7 linked regions of the Homo sapiens genome follow. The protein of the gene in region 4 interacts with the protein of the main gene of each other region in a pairwise test. Each region holds a gene or a part of one and is shown on either strand. Other genes may lie near its edges.

The links.
Region 1: the proteins of FLNA (region 4) and MTNAP1 interact in binary tests that used the Homo sapiens proteins (3 or more experiments, as listed by UniProt).
Region 2: the proteins of FLNA (region 4) and BOD1 interact in binary tests that used the Homo sapiens proteins (3 or more experiments, as listed by UniProt).
Region 3: the proteins of FLNA (region 4) and FAM117B interact in binary tests that used the Homo sapiens proteins (3 or more experiments, as listed by UniProt).
Region 5: the proteins of FLNA (region 4) and PHOSPHO2 interact in binary tests that used the Homo sapiens proteins (3 or more experiments, as listed by UniProt).
Region 6: the proteins of FLNA (region 4) and PLEKHF2 interact in binary tests that used the Homo sapiens proteins (3 or more experiments, as listed by UniProt).
Region 7: the proteins of FLNA (region 4) and CAMKK1 interact in binary tests that used the Homo sapiens proteins (3 or more experiments, as listed by UniProt).

Annotation. Positions count from the first base shown.
Region 1 is NC_000017.11:73,238,197-73,242,497, forward strand, and holds part of MTNAP1 (mitochondrial nucleoid-associated protein 1), read left to right. Parts: exon of another isoform or gene 1-442; intron 443-3,904; exon of another isoform or gene 3,905-4,047; coding exon 4,048-4,155; exon of another isoform or gene 4,156-4,226; coding exon of another isoform or gene 4,227-4,236; intron 4,237-4,301. Other genes in the region: CPSF4L (putative cleavage and polyadenylation specificity factor subunit 4-like protein), read right to left, coding at 4,227-4,236. UniProt on the Homo sapiens protein: Critical regulator of mitochondrial DNA (mtDNA) abundance. Binds dsDNA throughout the mitochondrial genome without sequence specificity and controls mtDNA copy number by promoting its replication.
Region 2 is NC_000005.10:173,613,572-173,618,015, forward strand, and holds the start of BOD1 (biorientation of chromosomes in cell division protein 1), read right to left. Parts: upstream 3,080-4,444; 5' UTR 2,866-3,079; coding exon 2,629-2,865; intron 1-2,628. UniProt on the Homo sapiens protein: Required for proper chromosome biorientation through the detection or correction of syntelic attachments in mitotic spindles.
Region 3 is NC_000002.12:202,721,182-202,725,482, forward strand, and holds part of FAM117B (protein FAM117B), read left to right. Parts: intron 1-3,735; coding exon 3,736-3,828; intron 3,829-4,301.
Region 4 is NC_000023.11:154,360,580-154,364,634, forward strand, and holds part of FLNA (filamin-A), read right to left. Parts: coding exon 3,947-4,055; intron 3,794-3,946; coding exon 3,680-3,793; intron 3,587-3,679; coding exon 3,443-3,586; intron 2,206-3,442; coding exon 2,082-2,205; intron 2,000-2,081; coding exon 1,839-1,999; intron 1,754-1,838; coding exon 1,663-1,753; intron 1,570-1,662; coding exon 1,400-1,569; intron 1,209-1,399; coding exon 1,091-1,208; intron 992-1,090; coding exon 729-991; intron 9-728; coding exon 1-8. UniProt on the Homo sapiens protein: Promotes orthogonal branching of actin filaments and links actin filaments to membrane glycoproteins. Anchors various transmembrane proteins to the actin cytoskeleton and serves as a scaffold for a wide range of cytoplasmic signaling proteins.
Region 5 is NC_000002.12:169,696,976-169,700,146, reverse strand, and holds part of PHOSPHO2 (pyridoxal phosphate phosphatase PHOSPHO2), read right to left. Parts: intron 2,787-3,171; 5' UTR 2,616-2,786; intron 2,283-2,615; exon of another isoform or gene 2,165-2,282; intron 1-2,164. UniProt on the Homo sapiens protein: Phosphatase that has high activity toward pyridoxal 5'-phosphate (PLP).
Region 6 is NC_000008.11:95,150,473-95,154,473, reverse strand, and holds part of PLEKHF2 (pleckstrin homology domain-containing family F member 2), read right to left. Parts: intron 444-4,001; 5' UTR 430-443; coding exon 1-429. UniProt on the Homo sapiens protein: May play a role in early endosome fusion upstream of RAB5, hence regulating receptor trafficking and fluid-phase transport. Enhances cellular sensitivity to TNF-induced apoptosis.
Region 7 is NC_000017.11:3,871,753-3,876,053, forward strand, and holds part of CAMKK1 (calcium/calmodulin-dependent protein kinase kinase 1), read right to left. Parts: intron 1,711-4,301; coding exon 1,657-1,710; intron 876-1,656; coding exon 802-875; intron 1-801. UniProt on the Homo sapiens protein: Calcium/calmodulin-dependent protein kinase that belongs to a proposed calcium-triggered signaling cascade involved in a number of cellular processes. Phosphorylates CAMK1, CAMK1D, CAMK1G and CAMK4. Involved in regulating cell apoptosis.

The sequences.
Region 1 (4,301 bases), on a different chromosome or scaffold from region 4:
GTTATGAGACCACCTCTCTAGTTAAAATACATAAAGTTTCTTAAGCTTTTCTAGGGGCAGGGTGATTGTAAAGTAGCATACCTGTCGTTTGTAAAGTAGCATACCTGTCGTGTGTAGTGGCCATTGGTGCTTTCATGCTTATTTTGACAGGAGACCTGTAACAACTCAGAATAGGTTTGCAAGAGAAAAACTGGTATTATCTCTTCCTAAAGGGAAATCATTTTCTTCTCTGGTAGATTTTGCAAATGATCTCATATTCACTAAACCTCTATTTGCCTGGTCTCAAAATGGATGTGTACTAAAAGCAGAACATTGCTAGCCCAAAGCTACATTTTCTTTAACTACCTTCTATAAACAGGCCTAACGTCTAGACCTTTTTGCACAAAGTTGTAGTCACAAAGTCAAGCCCCTTCTCCGTAATAAACACATTTAATTATATTAACATTTGTGTTGCTTTGTGGTTTTCAGAGTGCCTCCATCTGTATTTTTTTTATTTTGGGCACAAGGTGGACAGAGAGGTGGGCAGAGTGAATTTATCCTATTTTGTGGATGATGAAACAGGCACAGAGAGCATAAGTGATTTGTCCAAGTTTGTGTTGCCAATAAATAGTAGAGCTGCAAGGAGAACCTAGTTTCCTGAGGCCTAGTTTAATCTTTTCCACTAAACCATGTTGTAGAAAATACACCATAACTAAAACCATGTTTGTTATAGTGCCATACTTTTCTGTGTGTGTGTGTGTTTTGTTTTTTTGTTTGTTTGTTTTTTGAGACAGAGTTTTGCTCATTGCCCAGGTTGGAGTGCAGTGGTGTGATCTTGGCTCACCTCTGCCTCCTGGGTTCAAGCGATTCTCCTGCCTCAGCCTCCCAAGTAGCTGGGATACAGGTATGCGCCACCACGCCCGGCTAATTTTGTATTTTTAGTAGAGATGGGGTTTCTCCGTGTTGGTCAGGCTGGTCTTGAACTCGTGACCTCAGGTGATCTGCCCGCCTCAACCTCCCAAAGTGCTGGGATTACAGGTGTGAACCACCGTGTCCAGCCTTCTGTGTTTTTCAGTTGCAGATGCACACACTCCCCCCATGATAAATCTCTCTACCAAATTGAAGGACTTGTGTATTTTCTGTACTACATTTTATAGTGCTTAGGAGTGTCCTTGATACACACTTTTCATTTTAGAGGAAAAAGTGAGGGACCTGACGTTTATCTGTGATGACTATGACTATCGTTATGCTAGATACATTATGTCATTTAATCCTCATAACAGCTCTGAGTGACACCACTGTCCCACCCTCTTATTCCTCTTGAGGAATCTGAGCTTCAGACATCTTTTTTTTTTTTTCTTGAGACAGAGTCTTGCTCTGTCTCCCAGGCTGGAGTGCAATGGCACAATCACGGCTCACTGCAACCTCCACCTCCCAGGTTCAAGCGATTCTCCTGCTTCAGGCTCCAGAGTAGCTGGGATTACAGGTGCCTGCCACCACGCCCAGCTAATTTTTTTTTTTTTTAAGTAGAGATGGGGTTTTGCCATGTTGGCCAGGCTGGTCTCGAACTCCTGACCTCAGGTGATCCTCCCGCCTTGGCCTCCCAAAGTGCTGGGATTACAGGTGTGAGCCACCAGGCCTGGCCTGAGCTTCAGACATTAAGTGACTTCCCTATGTTCATGCAGTAAGTGACAGAATCAGGATTCAAACCCAGGTTCGTCTGACTCTACTAACTATTCCAAACAGTGAACCTCAAGTTGAGTTTAAAGACCACAGATAGAAGAGTCAGGTGAACCTGGAGGTATTAACTACTAACTCTCCCAAACAGTAAGCCTCAAGTAGAGTTTAAAGACCACAGATAGAAGTCAATACCTTGTTTGATATGTTATTGATACATTTCACTGTTAGCTCCTAAGAATACAATAATAAGATACAGTAACTTAAAACATTAAATTACCAAGGTTATGAGACAGGATATAGGAGGGAAAATAGAATTTTTTCTTCAGTAACAAGTTCCTTCCAAATAGTGGTGAGAAACTATTTTAATCCCTTTTATTGCTCATAGTCTGTAACTAATAAATGTTGTACTTAGTTTGGGACTTCTACATCAAGACAGTAAATAAGGTGTAATCATCATAGGGCCTCTACTTCTATTATAAACTGAAAAACTATTGAAGTTGGATCCAGGATCAGTGTTCAGACTTTGATGTTACCACCAAATGAACACAAGATACTAGAGGAGAGAGACCCTAGGATCAGGTCAAGCCCTGATCCCTCCATTGGCCAAGGACTTCAAGGCCATATCAATCTATAGGGATTAAAAGATGGTGCCATTGGCTCCTTAAAAAGCTTTGTAATTTCACCAGGCAATGACTGTCTCCAATGACTGCAAATTAGAGTTTTATTGGAATCTTTGCACAAGAGAATGGGCTATACCTTTTCTCACTCAGGCAAGACCTTTGATAGGTCATTTGCCCTTCTCAGGAAGCCAACTCATTCCTTTGGTACTTAAAAGGCAGGGCCAGTGAGCTAACAGTTACTGAATTAACTGCAGGTCAGGACAGTAGGCTCACCTGACTGGAGAAAGCAGGGCAAGGTCAGGGAGCCACGTGATCCTGACACTGCTGACAACATGGTTGCAATTTTCAGGAAGTTGTCTCTTTACACCGTTTTCCTCAAATTTTTTCCAAGATGAATGGGTTTTTTTTTTAAGAGACTAACCTTCACCTTGCAAGAGAATTATCTTCTGTGCAATTTCTTGGAAGCCAGCATGATTCTTTTCATTGTTCTTTAATGATCATTTGGATATTTTTACATCCACAGCAACTTTTACCACACTTGCTAAACCTGTTGTCGGTGTTTAATTTCTTCTTTATCTTGATGAACCAAACCAAGACTAGAGAACTATCAGTAGTAGAGATTACCTGTCATAAAACATGGAGAAAACCATGTACAGGAGAAATGTGATTAAGGAGCATAAGCCCTCTTTTTTTTGTTTTTGAGGCAGAGTCTTGCTCTGTTGCCCAGGCTGGAGTGCAGTGTAGCGATCTCTGCTCACTGCAAGCTCCGCCTCCTGGGTTCACGCCATTCTCCTGCCTCAGTCTCCCGTGTAGCTGGGACTACAAGCGCCCGCCACCACGCCCGGCTAATTTTTTCTGTTTTTTAGTAGAGACGGGGTTTTACAGTGTTAGCCAGGATGGTCTCAATCTCCTGACGTCGTGATCCACCCACCTCAGCCTCCCAAAGTGCTGGGATTACAGGCGTGAGCCACCGCGCCCGGCCTGCATAAGCCCTCTTTTCTGGTTCTGCTTAAGTTATTCATGCACTGAACATAAATAGGAAATGTTTGCTGGCCAATAATAGCGATAGGGTGATAGAACAGGCATGTTGACTGTGGGCAAGTCACAATCATAAAAGGAGAAAGTCACGCTTTTAGCTGACATGTTTAGCAGATGATAGAATATGTAAAAGAGGCCAGGCGCAGTGGTTCATGCCTATAATCCCAGCAGTTTGGGAGGCTGGGGCGGGCAGAACACATGAGGTCAGGAGTTCAAGACCAGCCTGGCCAAAGTGGCGAAACCCCGTCTCTACTAAATAACAAAAATTAGCCTGGCGTGATGGCGTGTGCCTGTAATCCCAGCTACTCGGGAGGCTGAGGCAGGAGAATCACTCGAACCCAGGAGGTAGAGGTTGCAGTGAGCCAAGATCATGCCACTGCACTCCAGCCTGGGCGAGAGAGTGAGACTGTGTCAAAAACAAAAAGATGATGTAAGAGACTCACTTCATGAAGCACATGCGCATCAATCACCTGGCCAGGGTACTCAGCAGACCAAAAAACAAGTAGACGCCCTGATTTTCAGGGGTCCCTTGGCCTTTTGAAAAACATTTTTTCAACCTGTAATTGATTTGACTTTCAACACTTAGCTGCAGTCCAATGCAGAAATCTTTAATGCACCTGTTTAGAATATGCTCTTCCTGAGGCTTAGCCGTGGATCCTTCGGCACTGGATGTTAGGGAAGGGGGTACGTTTCGGTAAACAATGACAGTGACTTCTGTTTGGAACCATAGTTTCTTTGTTGGAACGAAGCTCAACTCATATAAGGAGTTTGGAACCCCCTGCCGGACTTACAACCTCCAACTTCTCTCTAATGAGGCTCTTGGGAGCTGTACAAAAAGGTGAGGCTGGAGTTTGACTGTTGTCTTCTGTTGCAGGTTCTGGGCATTTGGAAAAGTTTCTCTTCGGGCTGTTAAGCAAGGCTAAAGAGGAGAGGAAAAAAATGTTAAAATGTGTGTTGTCTTCCTAGTTTTCCATTTGTCTGTGT
Region 2 (4,444 bases), on a different chromosome or scaffold from region 4:
TGAAGCCTTCCTAGCTCAGCTGAACTTTGGTAGACCTGCCGCCCCATGAACATGTGAACAAGTGCTGGTTATAAGCTGCTGAGATTCAGTTTGCTATGCAGCATTACTGCGGCAAAGTTTGCTAACAGTCAGGGAAATGAAGTTGACAAAGGAACCAGCAGGCCTCAATTCCATGACTGGCCTCTTCCAAAAGGTTGAGAGAGCAAACTCAAAGACTCCACTAAACCTGGAAAAGAGAAAGGCAAGGAAATGGGGGCAGAGGAGTAAAATTCACAGATACCATGTGCTATCTGCCTAGTAACGCCTTCTTTCTAGTAACTGTCTTCCTCTCTTCACAAGGGTAGGGCAGAGGGTGCCACAGGAGTGGGTGCCTGAGCCACGCTAAGACAATGCAGACATTCCCTGGGATTTCCCAGATTGGAGCTGACAGCCTCTCTCTAGAGGAAGAAGCTGTAAAATGTAATCAAGAGATACTAGTAACCAAATGGATGACTCCACTCTGAACCAACAGTAAAACAGATATCAACAGAGATGAAAGACAGAACGAATGGGGAATATCTGGTTCCAAACGCACGCCTACCACCCTCTGGGAGAGTTTGTTCGTTCAATCCTTCCCTGGATTCCGTAAGACAATAGATTCTCCCCTTTGCATAAAGCAGTTAGGATTATTTTTGTCCCTTGTAAGCATAAATCCTGATGCCATACCGTCTACTCAAAATAACGCACCTGGTTTGAGATGATACGAACTGTTTACCGAAAAAGGACAAAGGACAGTGAACATCACCACCAAAACACGTAACAAACCCAGGCGATACAGAATCATCTCAGTTCAAGAAGTCAAAGGAACTCATGAGCCCACTCATAACGTTTTACTGTACTACCAACCCCTCCACCTGTTCACTTATCAGTTCAAAGTAAATTACAGTGCAAAGTAAATTACAGACATCTGTTCAATTTCCCCTAAATACTTCAGCAGTCTGGGGTGGGGCCCAAAATGTGCATTTCTAACAAGTTCTCAGGTGATGCTGATGTTAATCCAAGCACCACGCTTTGAGAACCACTGGGCTGAAGCAACAAAGGTCTCAGATAAGATATGCCTGAAAAAACACTATCTTCAAGAACTAAAACAACCTGGAATTCTCAGAAGGAACAGCTAAGGAGCTGTACATGGGAAGGTTCCAACCACTCTCCCTCACCAGCCGCTCAAGAGGGTAGTCCCCTCCCCCCTCAGGGGATACGTTCCAAGATCCCCAGTGGGTGCCTGAAACCTCAGGTAGTACTGAACCCTATATACACTACGCATGAATGTCTTTGAGGGCCATTATGAAGTAAAATAGGGGTTACCTGAACACAAGTACTTCCATACCGCAACAATTGGGTAAATGAAACCGCAGAAAGCAAAACCTTGGATGGGGCGGGCTACTGTAGTCGCTTTTGTTTTAAAATCACACACAAAACCTAACGGAATATAAGAAATATGAATGGAGAACTTGTCCTAGGAAAGGTGAAAGCTCTGTCAATACAGATCTGGGATGTATATGTATTAAATTACTTTGTTTCAAGGACAGACTTCTAGTTGGGCTTTTCATCTTGGAGAAGGAACAGTGTATACCACTTTCTCTCTCTACATCCGTATTTACCACCTGGTTTATTTACATGTCAGTTTTCTAACCTAGACTATAAGTTTTGAGGATGGGGTAGTGACTTATTCCTGTAATCGCACAGCTTGGCAACTAGAGGCCAATAAACGTTCAACGAATAAACAGACTACGTTTTTCCCTATCTTAAGGTCTAATTCTAAGCTCACAATCTTGCTGTGAGGTAAGCAAAATGTTTCCATGACAGGCTCTGGTAGGAGAAATCACTACCCTGCAGGAGTCCAGTGACAGGGTCTCCTAACCTACAACCACAGTCGTGGCTAGACAAGTTTTGAAAAGGAAGAAAATGAACATTCCAGCAACTACTGTATGTCTGATACTTAACACCCATTATTTCATTGAATCCAAACCACCCTGACGAGTAGGTAAAGTGAAATAGCGTTTTACTGGTGGGACTGACCAATGGCATTAGGATCTCAACTAGGCACCAAATCTCCTTTTATCAATGATGAAGTGCAAAATAAGGGTGCTGTTTCTACAATTTATCTTAATTCAACGCCGTACTAGTCTGCAAAACAATGAGCTAGAGAAAAGGAATAAACAGCTATAAAATGGTGATGACTGTGTGTTCAAATCATTGTGTTTAATGCCAGCTTCTCAGTGGTGAGTACGGAACAGGTGGAAATTCTAAAGCACGCTTGCTTATCTACTTGGTTTCGAAGTTTGTTATTAAGGGCCTCAGAGGAGTTCCATCTTGGGAATGATACGGTCTAGGCTCTAAAACCCACATTGAAACCCCAAGTTCGGAGAAGGGACTGGGTAAAATCACAACTAGTAGTAAATGTATCAGGCAGGAACCCACGTGTGCATCGCTCAGAAAGCTCTCCGTACTGCCCCAAGCGGTGTAAGACCTCACCGCTGAGATTTCTAAGCTATCTTTTGTTTTGCTCTCGGCTTTCGAAAATCAAAGCTGCCACCCGGCGGCCTCACGTGCAGCCCCGCTCCCCAACGCCCAGGCGGCCGCAGCTACCTTGGTGTCCACGTCGGCCAGGCAGTCCCGGCGGAAGCTGTCAAAAAGGCCCCGGCTCTTGAGCTGCTCCACGATGAGAGCGATGAGCTGCGGGTCGCCGGGAGGCAGCGAGGCCGGGTTGATGGGGCCACCGCCCCCGCTGGCCCCAGTAGCGCCAGTCGCTGCCCCGGCAGAGGCCTGGCTAGTTCCGCCGCCGCCCACCGCGCCAGTTCCCCCGCCGCCGCCGCCGTCCGCCATGGCTGCGCCCCGGGCCCACAAGGGAGAACGACTATAGCTTCTTCTCCAGGACAGAAGGCCTAGAACGTGTAGAGGTGGTGAAGGGGGCGGTGAAGGAGGAGGGCCCCAAGGCGGCAGCGGCGGAGGTGGCGATGGCGGCAGGGGCGGTGGTGGGGGCGGCGGCGGCGAAGGCCCCCTCTGATACAGCAGAGGTTGTGGTGGACGCGGCAGAAACGGCCTGCTCGATTCCAGGCGCACCCCAGATGGCGTCAACGTTGACCTTTGCATTGTGGGGCGGGAAGTTTTCTGTGGCCATCTCCGGCGTTCTTTATAGGCAGCGGCCTAGCCGAGAGAAACTACAACTCCCGGCAGGGTTCGTGCTTGCTCGTCGCGATTTCGCGGGGTAATATGGGAACTGTAGGCGCAGGCCTCGTGATCGCTGCAACCCGCCAGGCCTTCCCCGCCAGGCCTTCCCCGCCCACTCTCTGCTCACTTCCCATTCAATCAACACGTCCCAGCAGTGCCCGATTATAACAGTCATCTGTGGAGCTGATTAAAAGTATAGATTACCAGAATTATTTCTTAAAGATTTTTATCCAGTATTTACGGGTCGAGACCTAGCAATCTGTGCTTCAGCATGCACTCCCACGTCCTTCTTGAACAACATGTTCCGGGAAATTCCGGAAACAGTGGAACAGTCAAACTTCTATTGTTCAGAAATTTGTGAGTTTCCCTCCTTTTGGTTTTAATAGCAATGCATACTCATTTTAGAAAATTGGAAAATAACGGAAAAGTGTGAAGAAGAAAATAAAAGTTTTCCTTAAGTCTGTCTTATATGTGTGTGGATTTCCTCCCAAATATTAAATATTGTCAATCATAAGCCAATATTGAATAATTGAAAAGTGTCAGGCGTGATGCTATGCACTTTCCACGCACTTCTTCACGATAATTTAAAAAAGCAGATACATACTACTATTATTGCTATTTACAGACGTAGAAATGGAGGCAGAAGAAAGTTTGTTAACCTAATCACATACCTAGAGGTAGAAAAGTAGGATTTGAACCCAGGTTTTGAGGATCTAAATCTTGCATTTTAGCCTGAGGTATCCTGAGAGCTAGTTGGTATCCCACAATAGGTAAGGCTTTATATCCTGATTTTTTTAAGTAGCCACAATTCACCATTGGAATCCTATAGCTGCCACCATTATCCTCTCTTCCCTTCATCTTTTGCCTATTGTTAGCTCAGCTCCCCCTCCCAACCTCAGCAATTATGTCTGCTATTGTTGTTTCCTCATCTTACACAAGCAGCAGAGGGGATGTAAATAGCAAATTCTGCAATATCCTTGGCTCCTGCGAAGATGCAGAATTGGCAAAGATCCAGGATGTTCTCCACACCAATATTTAGTACTCAAGACAGTTTAATTTTTTTTTCTTTTTTTTTTTTGAGACAGAGTCTCACTCTATCGCCCAGGCTGGAGTGCAGTGGTGCAATCTTGGCTCACTGCAGCCTCCACCTCCTGGGTTCAAGCAATTCTCCTGCCTCAGCCTCCCGAGTAGCTGGGATTACAGGCGCATGCCACCATACCTGGCTAATTTTAGT
Region 3 (4,301 bases), on a different chromosome or scaffold from region 4:
AATTAAATATTGAACTAACATTTGAAATGCAAGGATAAAAATTTAAACAATTTTTGAATTTGGAATTGTATTTATAAAGCATCTCTTCATCATGATTTTAGCCTGAAGTTTTCATATAAATAGTAATATAAAATGTATGAAAGAGGGGTTATCATTTACATTTGATTAGAATTTGCAAAAAACTATTTTCATAAAACTTATTCTGTTTCTATCCTCTGTTTTACATGAAATTATTATGGTCATTTTTTTCATCAAAAAATATTTGCATTCTTTCATATATCTTTATGACCATAGAGATAACAAAATAAGTTACGACTACTTGGCCTAATGGAATGAAAATAATAATAAACATTTACTGAGTGAATGTTTTGTTCTTGGCACCGTGCTTAAAAATTAAACCCTTTACATATACTAACTCCTTTAATTACCTTATAATTTTAGTATGTAGATGACATTATTCCTTTTTTTTTGAGACAGGGTCTCGCTCTGACATCCAGGCTGGAGTGCAGTGGAGCAAGCACAGCTCAGTGCAGCCTCAACCTCCCAGGCTCAAGCAATCCTCCCACCTCAGCCTTTCAAGTAGCTAGGACTACAGTCGTGAGTCATGAGGCCCAGCTAATTTTTTACATTTTTTTAGAGATGAGGTCTCCCTGTGTTCCCCAGGCTGGTCTTGAATTCCTGGGCTCAAGTGATCCTGTAGCCTTGGCCTCTCAAAGCACTGGGATTAGCCATGCATAAGCATGAGCCGCTGTGCCTGGCCTGACATTATTCTTATAAATGAGGAATTTAAAAATTCATATAAGAGAAGCATCTTGTAAAGATACAATTTTTTTTTTTTTTTTTTTTGGAGATGGAGCCTCTCACTGTCGCCCGGGCTAGAGTGCAGTGGCGAGATCTCAGCTCACTGCAACCTCCACCTCCCAAGTTCAAGCGATTCTCCTGCCTCAGCCTCCCAAGCAGCTGGGATTACACGTGCCTGCCACCACGCCCGGCTAATTTTTTGTACTTTTTGTAGAGACGGGGTTTCACTATGTTGGCCAGGCTGGTCTCAAACTTCTGACTTCGTGATCCACCCGCCTCGGCCTCCTGGGATTACAGGCATGAGCCACCACGCCTGGCCCAAAAAATGTTATTTAACTGATCTGAAACTTAAACATGTTTGTTTAACACCAACATATGTGATTCTGAACCACGCATACTATGCTGCTTATTCACAATAGCAACGACATGGAATCAACCTAAATGCCCATCAACAGTAGCCTGGATAAGGAAAATGTGGTGCATATACACCATGGACTACTGTGCAGCCATAAAAATAAACAAGATCATGTCCTTTGCAGGAACATGGATGGAGCTAGAGGCCATTATCCTTAGCAAACTAACACAGGAACAGAAAACCAAATACTGCATGTTCTCACTTATAAATGGGAGCTAAATAATGAGAACACATGGACACATAGAGGGGAAGAGCAGATTCTGGGGCCTTCTAGAGGGTGGAGGGTGGGAGGAGGGAGAGGATCAGGGAAAATAGCTAATGAGTACTAGGCTTAGTACCTGGGTGACGAAATAATCTGTACAACAAACCCCCATGACACGAGTTTACCTGTTTACCTATGTAACCAGTACATGTACCCTTGAACTTAAAAATTAAAAAAAAAAAATTCATTTGTTAAGGTTTTAAATTTTATAGTATTAAGTTTATTATTTTGATTTTGGTTTTTGATTTTGATACTTTATGCTATATGGTCCTATTTACATGTTGATCTTTGTGACAGGTATTTTAACAATGGACTTAAAGAGCCTGTGGATCCTAATATGAGAAATTATAAGTACAGTAGGGGTCACCTCTGGGATGTGTGACATCAGTTGGTAACCTCAAAGTGAAACTGGAGTTTAGGGTGAAATAGGGCATAGAGTGGTGGGAAGTTGACCAAATTGTAGCCCTTCCTTTTGATTCAGTGTATTTAAGGATCCTTGTCAGAATGGAGTCCTTTTGGCTATAAGGAGAAGATCCAGACCTGGGACATGACTAATTAGAATCACAGTGTCTTCATTTTTGAAAACTTTTCCTTCCCCATTTGAAACTAGACCATTTTATAATTAGTAATTGGTACGTTAATAGTGCAAAAGATATTCAAACTGCACAGTATTTTTTGGTATTTTTTATTATTTCATGTACAAAATTCAGAAGGTACAGAAGGGTATACACTAAGGGTCTTTTTCCCCAGAGACAGCCACTGGTACCAATTTTCTTTGTTACCATCTATTTTCTTCCAGATATAATTTACACACACATGCATTCTTTTTAGCAGTCCCATATAAAGGCAGTTGCTATACACACGGTACTGAGCCTTGAGGTTTTTCACTTAACAGTATATCATGGAGATTATTTCATGTCTGTATATTGTGAATTTCCTTATTCATTTTTATAGCTGCACAGTACTCTGTTATAAAGGTATACCATAATTTATTTAGCCAAACCTAAATAAATCTAACTTACTTACATTGTTTCAGTCTTACTTGTAAGAACAGTGCTACAGGGAATAATAGGCAAGTCATTTTGTACATAAAGATGTGCATTTGGTATCTGTGCAGGATAAATTGTTAAATAAGGGGTTGCTGTGTCAGTTTGCGCATTTATAACTTTGACAGCAGGTGCTGAATATCCCCCCATAAAGGCTGTATGCTCCCACTAACAATATAGGAGAGTTTATATTAGCAAATTGCTCAATCTTGTTGAAGCTTTAACTTTCATTTCCCTTCTTATCAGTGAGGTTGAGCATAGTTTCATGTGCTAGGAACTCATTTGTATTTTCTTTCCCAATACACTTTTTAAATTCTGGGTTTGGTATAACTACTTAAGGTTTAACTTTTTTTTTTTTTTTTTTTTTTTTGAGACGGAGCCTCCCTCTGTCATCCAGGCTGGAGTACGGTGGCACGATCTCGGCTCACTGCAATCTCCACCTCCCGGGTTCAAGCGATTCTCCTGCCTCAGCCTCCTGAGTAGCTGGGATTACAAGCACACGCTAATTTTTGTATTTTTAGTAGAGACAAGGTTTCACCATGCTGGTCAGGCTGTTCTCGAACTCCTGACCTCGTGGCCTGTCCGCCTTGGCCTCCCAAAGTGCTGGGATTACAGGCGTGAGCCACCGCGCCCAGCCAGGTTTAACATTTTTGAAGCTGTTCTCTGAAGATACTTATGGCAAGACTAGACATAATATAGAAGTTAATATTACAAGCTCTGGAGTCTCAGGTTTATTTCTTGGCTTTGCCGCTTGTAACACCTTAGGCAACTTACATGTGTTAAGTCAGATAAAGCATATGAAAGCACAGTGCCTAGCACATAAGAGCACAAGAATGTTAGCTATTATTAGTGTGCCTGGTGCGTGCTAATAATAACTGACATTATTAGCTATTATATGTTAGTTAACTATGGTAACTCTAGTTATTATATATAGTTAACTTTGTTCCATAAATGCTTTATTTGTAGTATAATTATAATTATGTAAAAATACTAATTTTTTATTAGCAATAAAAATGAAGTATGCCAAAATATTAATTGTAATTAATACCAGTTAAGTAACTGGTGCCAGGAGAATTTTGAGTAATTTGTGTTAATTATTTTTAATGTCTAATTTTTTTGTAATGGAAATATGTTTTATAATAGAAAAATATGGTAGACATTGTTGTGAAATGATTTTTGTTAAATACACCTCCCCTCTTTTTTCATTACAGACAGAGAGTGCATGGGCTGAAGAATACTCTGAAAAGAAGAAAGGGTCTCACAAGCGCTCAGCATCTTGGGGCAGTACAGATCAACTTAAGGAGGTCAGAAAAATGGTTCTAAGATAGTGGGTGTGGAAATATGATCCTTTTGTTGGCTATTTCCTTGATATTATGGGCAGCAAGGATTTGTCGTTTTCCATTGATTTCTTTTTTCTTTTTGGCTTCTGAAATAACAAAAACAATTATTGTGTTGATTTAATAAAGATTTCAATAGGGATATTTATATATCACTTACCTGATTATGTATGTTTGTCTTTTTTTAGGAGAATTCATACCTGTCTATTAACATCAGATTTAAAAATTGTAACAATACAACAAATTCACATTTATTCTTTTTTTTTTTTTTTTGGGGTGTGCATGTGTGTGTGTGAGACGGAGTCTCGCTCTGTTGCCCAGGCTGGAGTGCAGTGGTGCGATCTTGGCTCACTGCAGGCTCTGCCTCCCAGGCTCAAGCAATTCTCGTGCCTCAGCCTCCCAAGTACCTGGGACTGCAGGTGTATGCCATCATGGCCAGC
Region 4 (4,055 bases):
GCCTTCACCTGAGGGAAGAAGGGGTCAGGAGCCAAGGCCACACTATGCCCCGATCCCAGACCTCCTGCTTGACTTTCCACCTGCCTCCCCTTGCCCTGGCTTCCTGCCCTCACCAAACAGGGACACGGGCGGGCCCAGGCTGCCTGCCAGATGGGCCATCCATCAGTCATAAGGACAAAAAGGAGGGCAGGGCGCGGTCACTCACGCCTGTAATCTCAGCCCTTTGGGAGGCCAAGGTGGGTGGATCACCTGAGGTCAGGAGTTTGAGAACAGCCTGGCCAACATGGTGAAATCTCGTCTCTACTAAAATTACCAAAATTAGCTGGGCATGGTGGCGGGCACCTGTAATCCCAGCTACTTGGGAGGCTGAGGCAGGAGTATTGCTTGAAGCCAGGAGGCGGAGGGTGCCGTGAGCCAATATCGCGCCACTGCACTCCAGCCTGGGCGACAGAGTGAGACTCTTTCTCAAAAAAAAAAAAAAAAAAAAAAAAAAAAAAAAAGAAAGAAAAAAAAAAAAAAGAAATTCTTCAACCCTGATGACTTTTTGTGGGTTTCTATTTCCCTCCTCCCCTTTACTCTCACTTAAACAGGGTCAAGGTTGACAGTCTGTCTCAGGAAAAAAAAAAAAAAAAAAGGATTTAGGGCAGGTCTGGAGAAGATGGGGTACCTTTGGGGCCCTCAGAGAGCACAGTGGGTTCTACCCTTAGGGCCTCCCATACCCCAATTACCTTGCTAGGCTTGGTGGGGGCCACAGCTTCCAGAGGAAAGGGGCTGCCAGGCACGGGCACGCCGTCATAGGTCACCTCCACCTCATAGGGCCCTTCCTCACGGGGCAGGAAGCGCACCACACTGTTGTCAGCCCCCAGGCCTGGCTCCACCTTGCAGGGCACCGCTGCACCCGAGGGGCCCACAATCTTGGATGCCACTTTGCCTTGACCACCAGCACCCTTTGATTTGACTGTGAACTCCTGGTCTTTGCCAACGTCCACCTCTGTGGAAACGATGAAAGGAAGGAGAGAGACATGACACCCAGCTCAGCCAATCCCTGGATGTGACAAAGGCCTTTGCGACAAGGGCCCCAACTACTTACTCTCTCCCAGGCCAGACACCTTGATCTTGCTGAGGTCCAGGCTTGGAGATACTGCCACTGAGAAAGGGCTCTTAGGGATGGGATCCCCTCCATAAGTGACATTGACGCCTACTGGACCCTGGGAAGGGTGCAGAAGGGAAGGGGGTATTTAGAGACACCAGAATTGCTCCCCAACCCCCTCCTGGACCTCCATGCCTGTCCTCTCCCAGGTAAGGAATGAGAGTGGGCAGAAAGTCCCTCGGAGCTGTCCCCTAGGCTGCTGCATGAGGAGGCTGGGGACTCGGTGACTGTAGTGGAGGGTGTGGCTACCTGCTGGACAGGCGTGTACTTGACTGTGTAGGTGTTGTCATGGTGGTCGATGATGTCCACATCTCGCACTGCATCCCCCTTGGTGAGTCCTGAGAACTGGACGTCCAGCTTGCCTTTGCCAGCAGCTTTGGCATTTACTGTGAAGTGGGTGGGCTTGCCAAGCTCGACACCTGAGGAACACACAGGGACCATGTAGGGGCACCCTGCCCCAAGCCCTCCTACCCTTGATGCCCCGCAACCTGCCATGGGGTACCTGTCCTCACCAGTGCGACTGAGGCCAGGGCCCTCGGCCTTCACCTTACTGGCGTCATGAGAGGGCTCCACCTTGACTCGGATGGGGCTGGTGGGCGTGGCCTGCAGGCAGTGGGAGGAGAAGGCCTTAGAGGAGGGCAGACGTCATCCGCAATGACATCTTAGCGGCCAGGAGCGCAGCACCCACCTGGTCAGCAAAGAGGACCATAATGGTGTAGCTGCCAGCCCCCCGGGGCGTGTACTTGACCGTGAAGGTGTCATTGTCATTGCGGATGATGTCGAAGTCGATGTCAGCTTCGGCGGGGCCTACCACTCCAGGGGCACACTTGATGCCGATGCTGACGTCCCCTGCGGCGGGGAGAGGAGCGGAGGCTGAGACCTCGCAGGGACACCCCAGCCACCTGCCCTCCCACCCACAGCCAGGCCTTACCCTGGCCAGCCTCGGCGCAGTCCACAGTGAAGTAGGTGGGCTCGTGGGCCTTGAGCCCTGTCTTGGCTACTCCGGGGCCGTATACTTTGACCTTGTTGGGGTGGCTGCCAGCTCCCACATTCACCTGCAGGGCACAGGGGCAAGGGCAAGGGCATGAGCAGCCTGGAGGAGACTCAGAAGCTCCCTCAGCTACACTGGCAGGCACACAAAATGGTCCAGCTGCCTTGGGAAGAGTCTGGCAGTTCCTCAGTTGACCACAGAGGGACTGTGTGATGCTCCGGTTCACTCCGAGGCAACTACCCAAGAGAAATGAAAGCAAATGTCCACGCAAACACCTGGACTCACTGTTAACAGCACTGTTCATGATCACCAAAGGCAAGCTCATCCTCAATATCTGTTAGCAAGTGAACGGAAAAATGGAATGTGGTCTGGCCACACAATGGAGTATTATGCGGCCATAAAAATAAATGAAGCGGCCGGACGTGGTGGCTCATGCCTGTAATCCCAGCACTTTGGAAGGCCAAGGTGGGCGGACCACCTGGGGTCAGGCGGTTGAGACCAGTCTGACCAACATGGAGAAACCCCGTCTCTACTAAAAATACAAAATTAGCTGGGAATGGTGGCGTATGCCTGCAATCCCAGCTACTCAGGAGGCTGAGGCAGGAGAGAATTGCTTGAATCTGGCAGGCAGAGGTTGCAGTGAGCTGAGATCACGTCATTGCACTCCAGCCTGGCAATAAGAGCAAAACTCCGGCTCAAAAAAAAAAAACCAGGATGGGCGCGGTGGCTCATGCCTGTCATCCCAGCACTTTGGGAGGCCGAGGTGGGCAGATCACAAGGTCAGGAGATCGACACCATCCTGGCTAACACAGTGAAACCTTGTCTCTACTAAAAATACAAAAAATTAGCCGGGGGGGTGGCGGGCGCCTGTAGTCCCAGCTACCCGGGAGGCTGAGGCAAGACAATGGTGTGAACCTGGGAGAAAGAGCCTGCAGTGAGCCGAGATCGCGCCATTGCACTCCAGCCTGGGCGACAGTGTGAGACTCCATCTCAAATAAATAAATAAATAAACAAAATAATTATAAAGGAACAAAGTGCCAAGACATGCCAAACATGAACGAAAACACGGAAAACTTCGTGGTGAGCGAAAGAAGCCAGACACAAAAGGCCACATGGCACACAGTTCCATCTATAGAACATGTCCAGGATAGGCAAAGCCACAGCAGAAAGCAGGTTAGTGGTCACCAGGAGCTGTGGGACAGGGGAGTCAGGATGGTGTGCCACAACCACTTGAAATGGACGAATCGTGTGCTACGTGAATGCTATCGAGATGGACTAAAGGCCGGTGGAGGTTGGCTCACCCTGAAGGGGCTGTTGGGGATGCTGACGCCTCCCCAGGACACCATGGCTGTGTGCTTCACCGGCTTCCTGGGCACGTAGGAGCAGCTGTAAGTGCCATTGCCGTTGTCCTTGACCAACGCCTCCACAGGGCAGCCTTCATTGTCCTGTCAGGCAGATAGGAGCAGGTGGCCTGCTGGTCAGTGCCCAGGCCTGGGTGCCCACACCTGCCCTGCCCCCAACACCCGTGGGTGCTCTACCTGGACTTGGACCCGAAGTGGGGCCTTGCCACCGTGCTTGGCATCCACTGTGAACTCTGCTGGCTTGTTGACGGCCACACCTGTCTTCTCCAATCCAGGCCCACGTGCCTTCACCTAGCGGGAGACCACCCAGCTGTCAGGGGGCCAGGTCCAGGCTGCCAGAGCTACAACCCAGGCAGGGTGGCCAGGGACACAGAGTGCCATCCCCACCAGACCCCAAGCAGGAGCAGCAGGGCGAGACTTAGGCCATCACAGCCTGCTCTTTACCCTGTCTGGGTGGAAGTCCTGGGGCGCGTCACGGATGTCAGCCATGAAGGGGCTGAGGCGGATGTCTTCGCTGTTGCACAGCACGTGAACGGCATACTCGCCAGCCTCC
Region 5 (3,171 bases), on a different chromosome or scaffold from region 4:
CAGACAACTTAGAGAATGGGAGAAAATTTTTGCAATTTATCCATCTGACAAAGGTCTAATATCCAGCAACTATTATAAAGTTGAAAAGTTCCACCATCCCTGAAGTGAAAGGCATCGATGTCACTGCTCTTTTCATTTTATCTTCTCTTACACCTTTAGCTCCCAAATAGTTAAAGACTCTGCCCATAAAATCTGTCCAAAATCCTTTTTGATAAGAATCATGTAGTTCCTTGATAAGGAACTTAAACAAATTTACAAGAAAAAACAAACAGCCCCATTAAGAAGTGGGCAAAGACACAAACAGACAATTCTGGAAAGAAGACAATACATGTGCCCAAGAAATATATGAAAAAAAAGCTCAACATCACTGATCATTAGAGAAATGCAAACTAAAGCCACAACGAGATACCATCTTATACTAGTCAGAATGGCTATTATTAAAAAGCCAAAAAATAACAGATGCTGGCAAGGTTGTGGAGAAAAAGGAACACTTTTACACTGTTGGTAGGAGTGTAAATTAAATTAGTTCAACCATCGTGGAAGACAGTGTGGTGATTCCTCAAAGACGTAGAGGCAGAAATACCACTTGACCCAGTAATCCCATTACTGGGTATATACCCAAAGGAATGTAAATCATTCTATTATAAAGATACATGCAAGCGTATGTTCACTGCAGCACTGTTCACAATAGCAAAGACATGGGATCAACCTAAATGCCCATCAATGACAGACTGGATAAAGAAAATGAGGTACTTATACACCATGGAATATTATGCAGCTATAAAAAGGAATGAGATGATGTCCTTTACAGGGACATGGATGGATCTGGAAGCCATTATCCTCAGCAAACTAACACAGGAACAACAACAAGAAAAACCAAACACCATGTGTTCTCACTTATAAGTGGGAGCTGAATCATGAGAACACGTGGAAGGGAATAACATACCCTGGGACCTGTCAGAGGGTGGGGGTGGGAGGAGGCAGAGCATCAGGAAAACAGCTAGTGGATGCTGGGCTCAATACCTAGGTGATGTGATGATCTGTGCAGCAAACCATCAGGGCACACACTTACCTATGTAACAAATCTACACATCCTGCACATGTACCCCTGAACTTAAAAGGTGGAAATCAAAAAAATTAAAAAAGTATTTAGCTTAAAATCAATTTCTAAATATCAATATTATAAGTAAATGATTGCTGACACTCTATATGATATTCTAAACAAATTACCTGAGAACTGGAGGCCAATTTAATTCTTCCAAACTAGAAGTAACTTGGTTAAGAGTTTTCACATGTTTATTTATAGCTGCTCTAGATAGTTTAGCTCTGGGGTGCCAAATAATTTGAATACACCTGAGTAATCATACTGTTTGTGGTGTGACAATTACTTATGTCTCTGTTTTCATTAGAATATAATGAAGGTGATTAATTATAAATCTCAAGAGAAAAGGAAAGAATAAGCTGGTCAACTGATGGTAAGAATAAACATTATTTATAAAAAATAACTATATAGAATATCCAGAAAAGGATATAATTAATGTGTGTAAACAGATAATAATAATAATTTTGAGAGTCATTATATGTCAGGCACTGACCTAAAAACTTTGCAATATCATACCATTTAATTGTCACAACCCTATTAAGTAGGAATCATTATTATCCTCATCTTAAAGATATATAAGCTGGATCTTGAAGTGGTTAGGTGTTAGTAAAGTGCCAGAGCTGGAATCTTAGGTTGATTTGATTCCAGACTTCATGCTTTTAAGTACCAAATTCTAGTGTTAAAAAATAGAATATTTAATGACTACTCATTAGTTTAAAAATATAACACTAAGTAGGTAATTTTGGCAGAAAGATATTTAATTACATAAAAACATTCATTACTTTCAAAGTACACACTAACCATAACACCACATCTGTGATACTCTTTATAACCATTTTGAGGTTTTTACAAGAAATCCTAAAAAGGCAAAGAACCACAGCAATAAGAAAAAGATCAATTAAAAATGAAAAACATGGCATTTAACCACACATATTCTCCAGTTTATAACAGTAGACACCCAGTAGTGAAGACAGAATAGAGCTCTTGACTCACATAAGACTAAGTATTCTGTGTCTCTTAATTTAGAATATCTAGAGAATAATTAACCTATAGGGGTATCACCTGTTGTGTGAATGTGGCTGGTACATAGTTTTTGTTATTCTGGATCCTTGTATCACTAAATGCCTAATCCAGATGCTTCTGACTGGTTCCCTGAAATTTAAATGCAGAATTCACTTTCCTACAGAAACAATGTAATAAATAATAAGGCATAATTGACAATCACAGTAGTACTGTAACTAGGCACATTTTAAATTAAATATGCTTTTTGAGAATTCTGAATTTATAATTAAAACAAATTTCAAATGTAACTCACTGTTGTTTGAAAACTGCCTCAAACCTAAACTTAATTAGCCACAAATTACTGAAATTCCTGAATTATTAGCCTCAAAATAGCATGAGACTGAGGTAACATAGTTCCCCTGCTGATCTGAAAGTGCACTTTTAAAATTTTCCCATCTTTTTCTGTTAGTATTTTCTCACCACTCAACATAAACCTTTAAAAAATACTTACCCAACTTAGTATTTCCAAGACAATCTTACTTCAGCATTGGGATTAGGATAAACAATCATGACAATCTTCAGTTTTAAACATCAGCCAGTTGTTTTCAAATATTACTCCTATTCTATATACAGGGAACAGAGTCTTCTGGTTTGGAGCAAAATAATGGAAACTTCTTAACTCCTAAAATTAATAAAAGTATTTTAAAAGCTTTAACATTTGTATTTTCAGGCCGGGCGCAGTGGCTCACGCCTGTAATCCCAGCACTTTGGAAGGCCGAGGCGGGGGATCACGAGGTCAGGAAATGGAGACCATCCTGGCTAACACAGTGAAACCCCATCTCTACTAAAAATACAAAAAATTAGCTGGGCGTGGTGGCGGGCACCTGTAGTCCTAGCTACTTGGGAGACTGAGGCAGGAGAATGGTATGAACCTGGGAGGCGGAGCTTGCAGTGAGCCGAGATCGCGCCACTGCACTCTAGCCTGGGCAACAGAGCGAGACTCCGTGTCAAAAAAAAAAAAATTTTTTTTTTTGTATTTTCTAATTATGTTGTTTTTCTAATGTCAG
Region 6 (4,001 bases), on a different chromosome or scaffold from region 4:
ATTACTGGGTGTCTTCCCACTTTTGGAGAGTAAATCAGTAACACATTTATTTATATGATTCATCCATTCTGATTTCTCCGTAGCAGTGGCAGCATAAACTGCAAAAGATTTAGTTGGTGTCTTGATTAGCCATCCATTCCTTAAGTCTCCCTCATCTTTGATGGAATCAATAGTGACATTTTCCAGGGGAATAATATGTTGTTTGTTATATTTTTTCTTCTGGATGACAATATTGCCATATACAAGAATATCATTAAACAAGAAAAACTGCCTTGCTTTGGGCTTTTTCCTGCACAACTTAGTCAATACTCCTTCTCCAATAAGAACTCGTCCAGGTATAGTTAAAGGTTGACCAGCTGCTCCAAAACAGTTTTCCACTATACTTATACGTCTAGTATTTGCTTCACTGTTTGCCAAGCGATCCACCATCTTTCACTAATAGCCTTTTAAAAAAAAGAAAAAGAAATTAGCACATATAAATTATAAATTCCTATAAGTTAATTATATATAAATTAAGCTAACAAATCATTGCTTTTACACAAAGGCAAAATGTTCTAAAATTCTTTCCCTCTAAGATAATCACTAAGCACATCAAAAGGGCTAACATTTCTCAATTTTTAAAATGATGAAAAACACTTATTTATCATCTCCACGTAGCACCATACTAGTTAAGCAGGTATTTGTAAAAGTATAAACTTCCTACAGACATAATTGAATGAAAGACGATTGGATAATTAACATAACTTATCTCTGCAAAATAATAAACCCCATTCAATGAAATGTAATCTCAATGGGATTCTGAACAATAGGGAACAAAATGTTACATAAACTAAGAAAAATGACTACAATTTTCCAAGTAAGCTATTACCACTGAGCTACAGCCTTAATTCTCTCACCTGGATTACTAGAACTGTTTCCCAACATGTGTCCTGGCCTTCAATCTTGCCCCCAAATCAATCTTTGGGCAGTGATCTCTAAAACCCTAATTTGACCCCATCATTGCTCAAAATGATCCCTTAACCTATTAAATACAGGGTGTTCACGGCCTTTCATTACTTGGTTCTTGTCACTCCAACCTCACCATAAGTCAGTCTTCACCTCAAATGTCATATTCTAAGAACACTCTACTACTTGTAGTCCATTTCACTGTTGTTCCTTTTACTACTTACTACTGCAGCTAACTCATATTCATCCTTCGAGACTTAGTTTAGGTAATCGTGTCTCCTCCAGGAAGCCTCCTTTAAACTCCCATGCTAGACTAAAACCCTTCCTGTGAGCTATCCATATTCCATGTATATTCTAGCTTCACTTTTACCAAAGGACTGAAATCTGTTCCTCCAGAGACCATGCAGAACCTAAAAAGCAGAGATCATCTGATAGTTTTGTTTGAAACTGATACGGTTTGACACAGAAAAGGTACTAAAAAATGTTAATAACATTTTAACAATGTGCAAAACACCCTATTAATCTAAACATTTAATCTCTAAGTCCAATATTGACTTCACTCAAGTCCCAGAGTTGTATCCTATTTCAAACCTACTAAACTAATACTACTATACTATAACCAAGTCATATTAAAGAACAACAAGCCTTGAGAAGAAGACCATTTAAAGTTTAAAGACTAACAGCATAGTATGTAAGTTCCAGTATTCAGCTCAAAAACTGACACTATAGCCCTTCTTGGCCTTCATTATAAAGGACACTAGAATTCTGGTTATTTCTGAATTCTGTCTCCCTGCAAATCTTGGGTCCTTATAAAGCCCTCTTGTCCTCCACAAAAGTAGGATGTAGCAGGCCTAAAAGTTGTTCCCAAGAATTAATAGGATAATGCATGGTTCCAAACTGGAAAGGTTTCTAATTAGGACTAATATGCCAGCCAATTAAAAGCCTACTATCCTATGCACAAGTACATCACAGAAAAGGAAATAAAAACGGCTAATAAACAGGAAAAGAGGTTTCAATCTCTATCATAATTAAAGAAATTATATTAAACATTAGTATATTTTTCACTTAGATTAATAAAAATTTTTAAATTTACTAAGATTCAGTACTCATAAAGGTATAGGGAAATAGGTACCCTTGTACACTACAGAGAATATGTGTATTCACCAATCTAATTAAATAAATTTCACTCACGTGCATAGAGATATATACAAGGATAATCAGCACAGCATTGTTTATAACAGGAAAACAATTGGAAAAGCTCCAAATAGCCATCAAGAGGAACTGATTGAAAAAGTTATGACACACCCTTAATCATATATCTTGAGAATAAGACAGATCTAAAACCAGTGACAAGGGAAATGCTCAAGATCTTTAGGTGGGGAAAAGAGATGAACTTCCTGATCTCATTTTTATTTCAAATAAATACCACATTTCATCACATCTAAGGTGCTATAGATTTTAAGACATATTTATGTGCAACTCATAAAGAGAAAAATGTTGCCAATTAAACCACAGCATACCGTTGATTATAAGACCAATTTCAAATACATATAGTAAAAAATGTTTATCTTTAGACTCAATGGAATACATATTTCAAAAGCATAATCATAGACATCTGTATCTGTAAGCACACACACAACATAAAGTTAAAAAATATATACTATACTATCAACAATGGTAATTTATCTCTGGAAAGTATAATTATGGATCATTTTTTCATACTTTACATTATATTCAAGCATTCCACAAGTATTTGTCAGGCACTTAGGATCTAGGTGCAGGAAAAGTAAAAATAAACACCACAGGCGATCATACTTGAGTATGTGACAACAGATAAAAATTTTAAAAAATAATAAATTAAACAATACAGGCAAGGTCCCTGCTCTTCAGGGTTTACATTCTAGTTGGAGAGAAGGAAAGAGAAAACAAAATTGAAATCTAGTACTAATCAATGCTATGATTTTTTTTTTAAAGTGATTTTTAAAAGAAACTGAGAGCTATTCAGACTACATGGTCAGGAAAGGCCTTTCTACAATGTTGTCATTTCAGCTGTACTAGATGGACAGACATAAGAAGGGGTAAGGATAGGGGAGAATATTCCAGACAAAAGGAGTAACTGCAAAGGCCCTAAAACAGGAAAAGACATTGGCACTTTAAAAAAAAAACTGAAAGGATCTATTTCTCTCCACCTGAATCAACTACTGAGTCCACCCATTTGAACATATCGTTATTAACTCATATACAACACAAACAGATTTCCTATTATTGCTACTATGAGAATTAATACTATCATAAATTTGTACTGTGCTTTTCATATTATTTTCTGATTTGAACTGTTTGAAATGCCTATGAAGTTACTAGAGAAGTTTTTATTGTCCCCCAAAGAAGCATCTAATAATATTAGCTGAACTGTGAGCTGATGAAGAAATTAAGGCACAAAGATATTTAATAATGTAAAAGCAAAACTTAACCTGGAATGAACTCTACTCATAGGGAGTCCAACCAATGTGCTGAGCACTTTGCACTTATTACTGTATTTCCTCCTCACAGCAACCTTATGATACATGCACTATTAGCTCCATTTTATGGATGAGTAAACAGCCAAAGAGGGGTTAAATAACTTGCCCAAGGCTGTCACAGCAGAACAAGCCTCAAATCTGATTTCTCTGTGATGTTACAGTATGTTATGGTACACTAATTGTTCCTAAGAACTCCACTGAATCTACAAGAACTCTAAGGAAGCTATTAACTAACCTCTGGACCTTCATTGCAAACCCTAAAAATACTGAAGATAAGGGAATACTACCTTGAACAAATCACCTGAAAGGATGGATATGTCATGATTTACCCAGCTGGTGTCTTGATAATCTTTCATTGTCCAAATGTTTCAATATATTAAGTCTAAATCTTTGTTCATAAATCTTTCTCCCTGTTTAATAATGATGCAACTTAAGCAAGGTTTGGGGCATTATTAATTAGTATTTGGCTGCAGCAAAGCAAATAGCTTTCAAAGTTTGACAATGACCAACATAAACACATTTTATATTGCAAGGTTA
Region 7 (4,301 bases), on a different chromosome or scaffold from region 4:
CTCGTGCTTCAGCCTCCCGAGTAGCTGGGACTACAGATGTGCGCCACCACGCCTGGCTAATTTTTGTATTTTTAGTAGAGATGGGGTTTCACCATGTTGGCCAGGCTGGTCTCTAACTCCTAACCTCAGGTGATCTGCCCACCTCAGCCTCCCAAAGTGCTGGGATTACAGGCGTGAGCCACCGCACCCGGCCTCCATTTCACTCCTGAAATCCACTGCTGAAAAGAGGAGCCTGGGAGCTCAGGCTGTGGCTGCCACGGTGGCCGTCATGAGGCGAACCATGCATGAGCAAGAGGCCTCCCCGACGTCCCTGCTACGCTCAGAGACCTCGGTCACAATGGGAAGAGTGGGGAGGAAGAGTGGCTTGAGTCCCAGCCCCCTGACCGCTCTCCTCCAGAGCATCCTCTTTTCCATCTGTGAAATGGGGAGCACGCACTGGCATCTTGAAGTTCCCTGACCCTGAGTGGGGGAAGGAGAAGTTCCCCTTGAGTCCAGGGGCTGGGTGGGGCTGGCGCCACTGACCCCAGGCAGGCCTGCGGTGAAGGAGTGGTGTGAATGATGCCTGTGGTCATCCCTGGCCAACCCTGGATCTCAGGGTTCCCATCCACACAGTGACGTTGCGGAGACCCTTGGCTCCAGAGTCCCTCCCGTCCATCTATTCAGGGGTCCCTCCCAGGGAACAGCACCGCCACCTTCATATCTGCAGGCTGGGGTGGGGTCCTCAGAGGGCAAAAGCTCTGCTAAAACTCAGACACCAGGAGCGGGTGGTAGCCCCCTTGTTCCCCTGGGTGGACAACTCACTCCTCAGGAAACACCACGGGCTCATTCTTGATCTTCCTGTGGAGGGCCAGGATGAAATCGTCGATGAATGGGCACTGTGGGGTGGAGAGGCAGACAAAGGATGTGGGTCCAGGGCCTCGACCTGTGCCAGGGGATCAACCCCCCTCCCTTGGTGGGGGCAGGGGTAGGGGGCAGGTCTGGGCTCCCATTACATGAGAAGGACCTCAACTCACACTGTAAATGTTCAACAAATGTTGACTGAATGAATGAGTTGCTGAGGGAACAATGAGGCTGGGTGCATCCACCGCCGTTACTGCCACCCGCGGCCAGGCCAGGCCAGGCTGGGTGCACCCACCACCATTACCGCCACCTGTGGCCAGGCCTCCACTCCCAGGGCCTGGGGCTTGGGAACATGTTCACTGAAATTCCCCCCTGCCCCTTAGTGTGGTCACCAGAGCAGGCACACCTGCGGGCAGGGATCACCGATACGTCAGCGTTGGGTGTCCCCAGGGTCCAGCCTCAGCCAGGGTAGGGGTGAAGGACAATTTGTCGAATAAATGAGCAAGGGAGTGAACACATGGCTCAATAAGTGAATGGCGTCAAGGGACAGAGGGACGGGGAGCACTCTGGCTGGGGCGGTGGCAACACCATCGTCGGCACCTCCCCTTAGGTGTCTGCTGTCCTGCGACTCCTTCGCGAGAATCGCTCCGCAGGGGACCAGAGAAAGATAGAAAAAGCCTCTTCTCTCTCAGCCTTCTCTGAGCCAGGTGGGCTCTTTCAAAAGCCACTTAAGGACAAAAAGGAAGAGCCTGCATCCGTCGCCCGTGCCCGCCTCACTGGACCCGCCCCAGCTCTGCTGGCATCCCTGGCACTCACCTTCCCATAGACAAAGCAGTACAACGTGACGCCAGTGGCCCATACATCCAAGGCCTGGAAAGAAACATGCTCACATCAGTCCCCAACAGGCACAGCCACCTCTGCCCACCCAGCTCCAGCGGGCTGCAGGAGAGGCCTGCAGGGAACCTCTTTCCTCTGTCATGCACTCACTCGACAAACACTCCGCGGTACTTGCCCGATGCTGGGCCCCGTGCTGAGTGCTGAGGACACAGGGGCGGCCAGAACAAGGCCTCCACCCTCCAGGGGTTCTGGATTTCCTTGGGAAAGACTCTAACCAGGTACGTTTCCAACTCAACAGGTACAAAACCTCCTTCATCCAGAGGGTCACACGGGCCGCTCCCGTGCCACAGACGCACCCCAGGAATGATGGTATATATGGAACTTCTGCTCACTAAACCAGCTCGGGCTTCAAGGAGTCATCCCTTCTCCTCATAATCCACCTTCTTCCTGATATTGCAAACAGCCCCTGCCCACACAGAGGCCCTGTCCTCTCACGCCCTCATCCACCGCCACTGCAACAACTCCTCTGGGCTCCCAAACACCCCTGGGCCTCCCCGCGCCCTGGACTCCAGCGTGTGCTCTCTCTACCTTCTGCTCCGGAACGCCACCTCTTCTGGTATCCACTTTCTCGCTTATATGAGTGATTCTCGATCTCTACCTACATATTCCTGCCCCAGATGCATCATCTGAATCCAACCAGGGAACACCAGACAAATGCAAACTGACAACATTCTACAAAATAACAGGCTGGTTGTCTTCCAAAATGTCAAGATCAGGAAAGACAACGGCAGGCCAAGGCCCTCTTCCAGATGAAAGGATACCACAGACAAGAAGGTGAATGCAGCAAGTGGTCCTCGATTGGATTCCGGGACCAGAAAAAGAAGAAGTTATGAAGTACAGTATCAGGACAACTGATAACATTTAAATAAGGTCTGTGGATTATGTATGTCTTTTTTTTTTCAGACAGAGTCTCACTCTGTCGCCCAGGCTAGAGTGCAATAGCACGATCTTAGCTCACTGCAACCTCTGCCTCCTGGGTTCGAACGATTCTTCTGCCTCAGCCTCCCAAGTAGCTGGAATTACAGGTGCCTGCCACCATGCCCGGCTAATTTTTGTATTTTTTAGTAGAGACGGGGTTTCACCACGTTGGCCAGGCTGGTCTCAAACTCCTGACCTCAGGTGATCCACCTGCCTCGGCCTCCCAAGTAGCTGGAATTACAGGTGCCCGCCACCATGCCCGGCTAATTTTTGTATTTTTTAGTAGAGACGGGGTTTCACCACGTTGGCCAGGCTGGTCTCAAACTCCTGACCTCAGGTGATCCACCTACCTTGGCCTCCCAAAGGGCTGGAATTACAGGCATGAGCCACCATGCCTGACCGATATATAAGTCTTATCAATGATTAATTTCTGGCTGGGCGTGGTGGCTCACACCTGTAATCCCAGCACTTTGGGAGGCCGAGGCGGGCGGATCACGAGGTCAGGAGATCCAGACCATCCTGGCTAACACGGTGAAACCCCGTCTCTACTAAAAAATACAAAAAATTAGCCGGGCGTGGTGGTGGGCGCCTGTAGTCCCAGCTACTCGGGAGGTTGAGGCAGGAGAATGGCGTGAACCCAGGAGGTGGAGCTTGCAGTGAGCTGAGATCGCGCCACTGCACTCCAGCCTGGGCGACAGAGCGAGACTCCGGCTCAAAAAAAAAGAAAGATGATGAAAAAGCCAGTGGGACAAAATGTCAATAATTGGTGAATCTGGGTAAAAAGATATAGGGGATTTCTTTGTACTATTCTTCCAACTTTTCTGTAAATTTAGAATTATATCAAAATAAAACATTTCAAAAAATCTTTATCAACATCCCCAACGTCTTTCTTTCTTTCTTCGAGACAAGGTGTCGCTCAGTCACTCAGGCTAGACACCATCACAGCTCACTACAGCCCCCAACTCCTGGACTCAAGCGATCCTCCCACCTCGGCCTCCCAAGTAGCTGGGACTACAGGTGTGCACTACCACACCTGTCTAATGTTTTTATTTTTTTTTTTGTAGAAATGGGGTCTTGCTATGTTGCCCAGGCTCATCTCAAATTCCTAGCCTTAAGAGATCCACCTTGGCCTCCCAAAGCACTGGGATTACAGGCATGAGCCACTGTGCCCGGCCTCCTGACCTCTTTCCTGGATACTCACACGTGTCCAAATGCCTCTCACCCACAGCCTCCCTGGCAGTGGGGTGGCTGGCACTCCATAGGTGAAACAGCCATGTGCCCAGGGAACTGCGCCAGACCGTGTAACCTCTTGTTCAGACAACTTTGCCTACGCTCCTGTCACTTAGGAGAAAGCCCAAACTTCCAGGCCCTTTATACCCTCTGCCCCCCACCCTGAGCCCTTCTGTTCTCTGGTTTATTCTCTAGGCTCCAGGTCCTGCTCAGATCCTCCCCATTCTTCAAGGGCCAGTTCAAATCCTGCCATGTCCCAAGATCTGCGGGGACCCCCAACTTCCCCCGAAACCATCCAGAGGGCAGGAAACAGGGTTCTCTTTGTTTCTGCCTCTTCCACAGTCCAGTCCAGAACCCAGCACAGAGCAACCAACAGTAAATATCTGCAAGGGAGATTTGGGACCACTTTGCTGGAA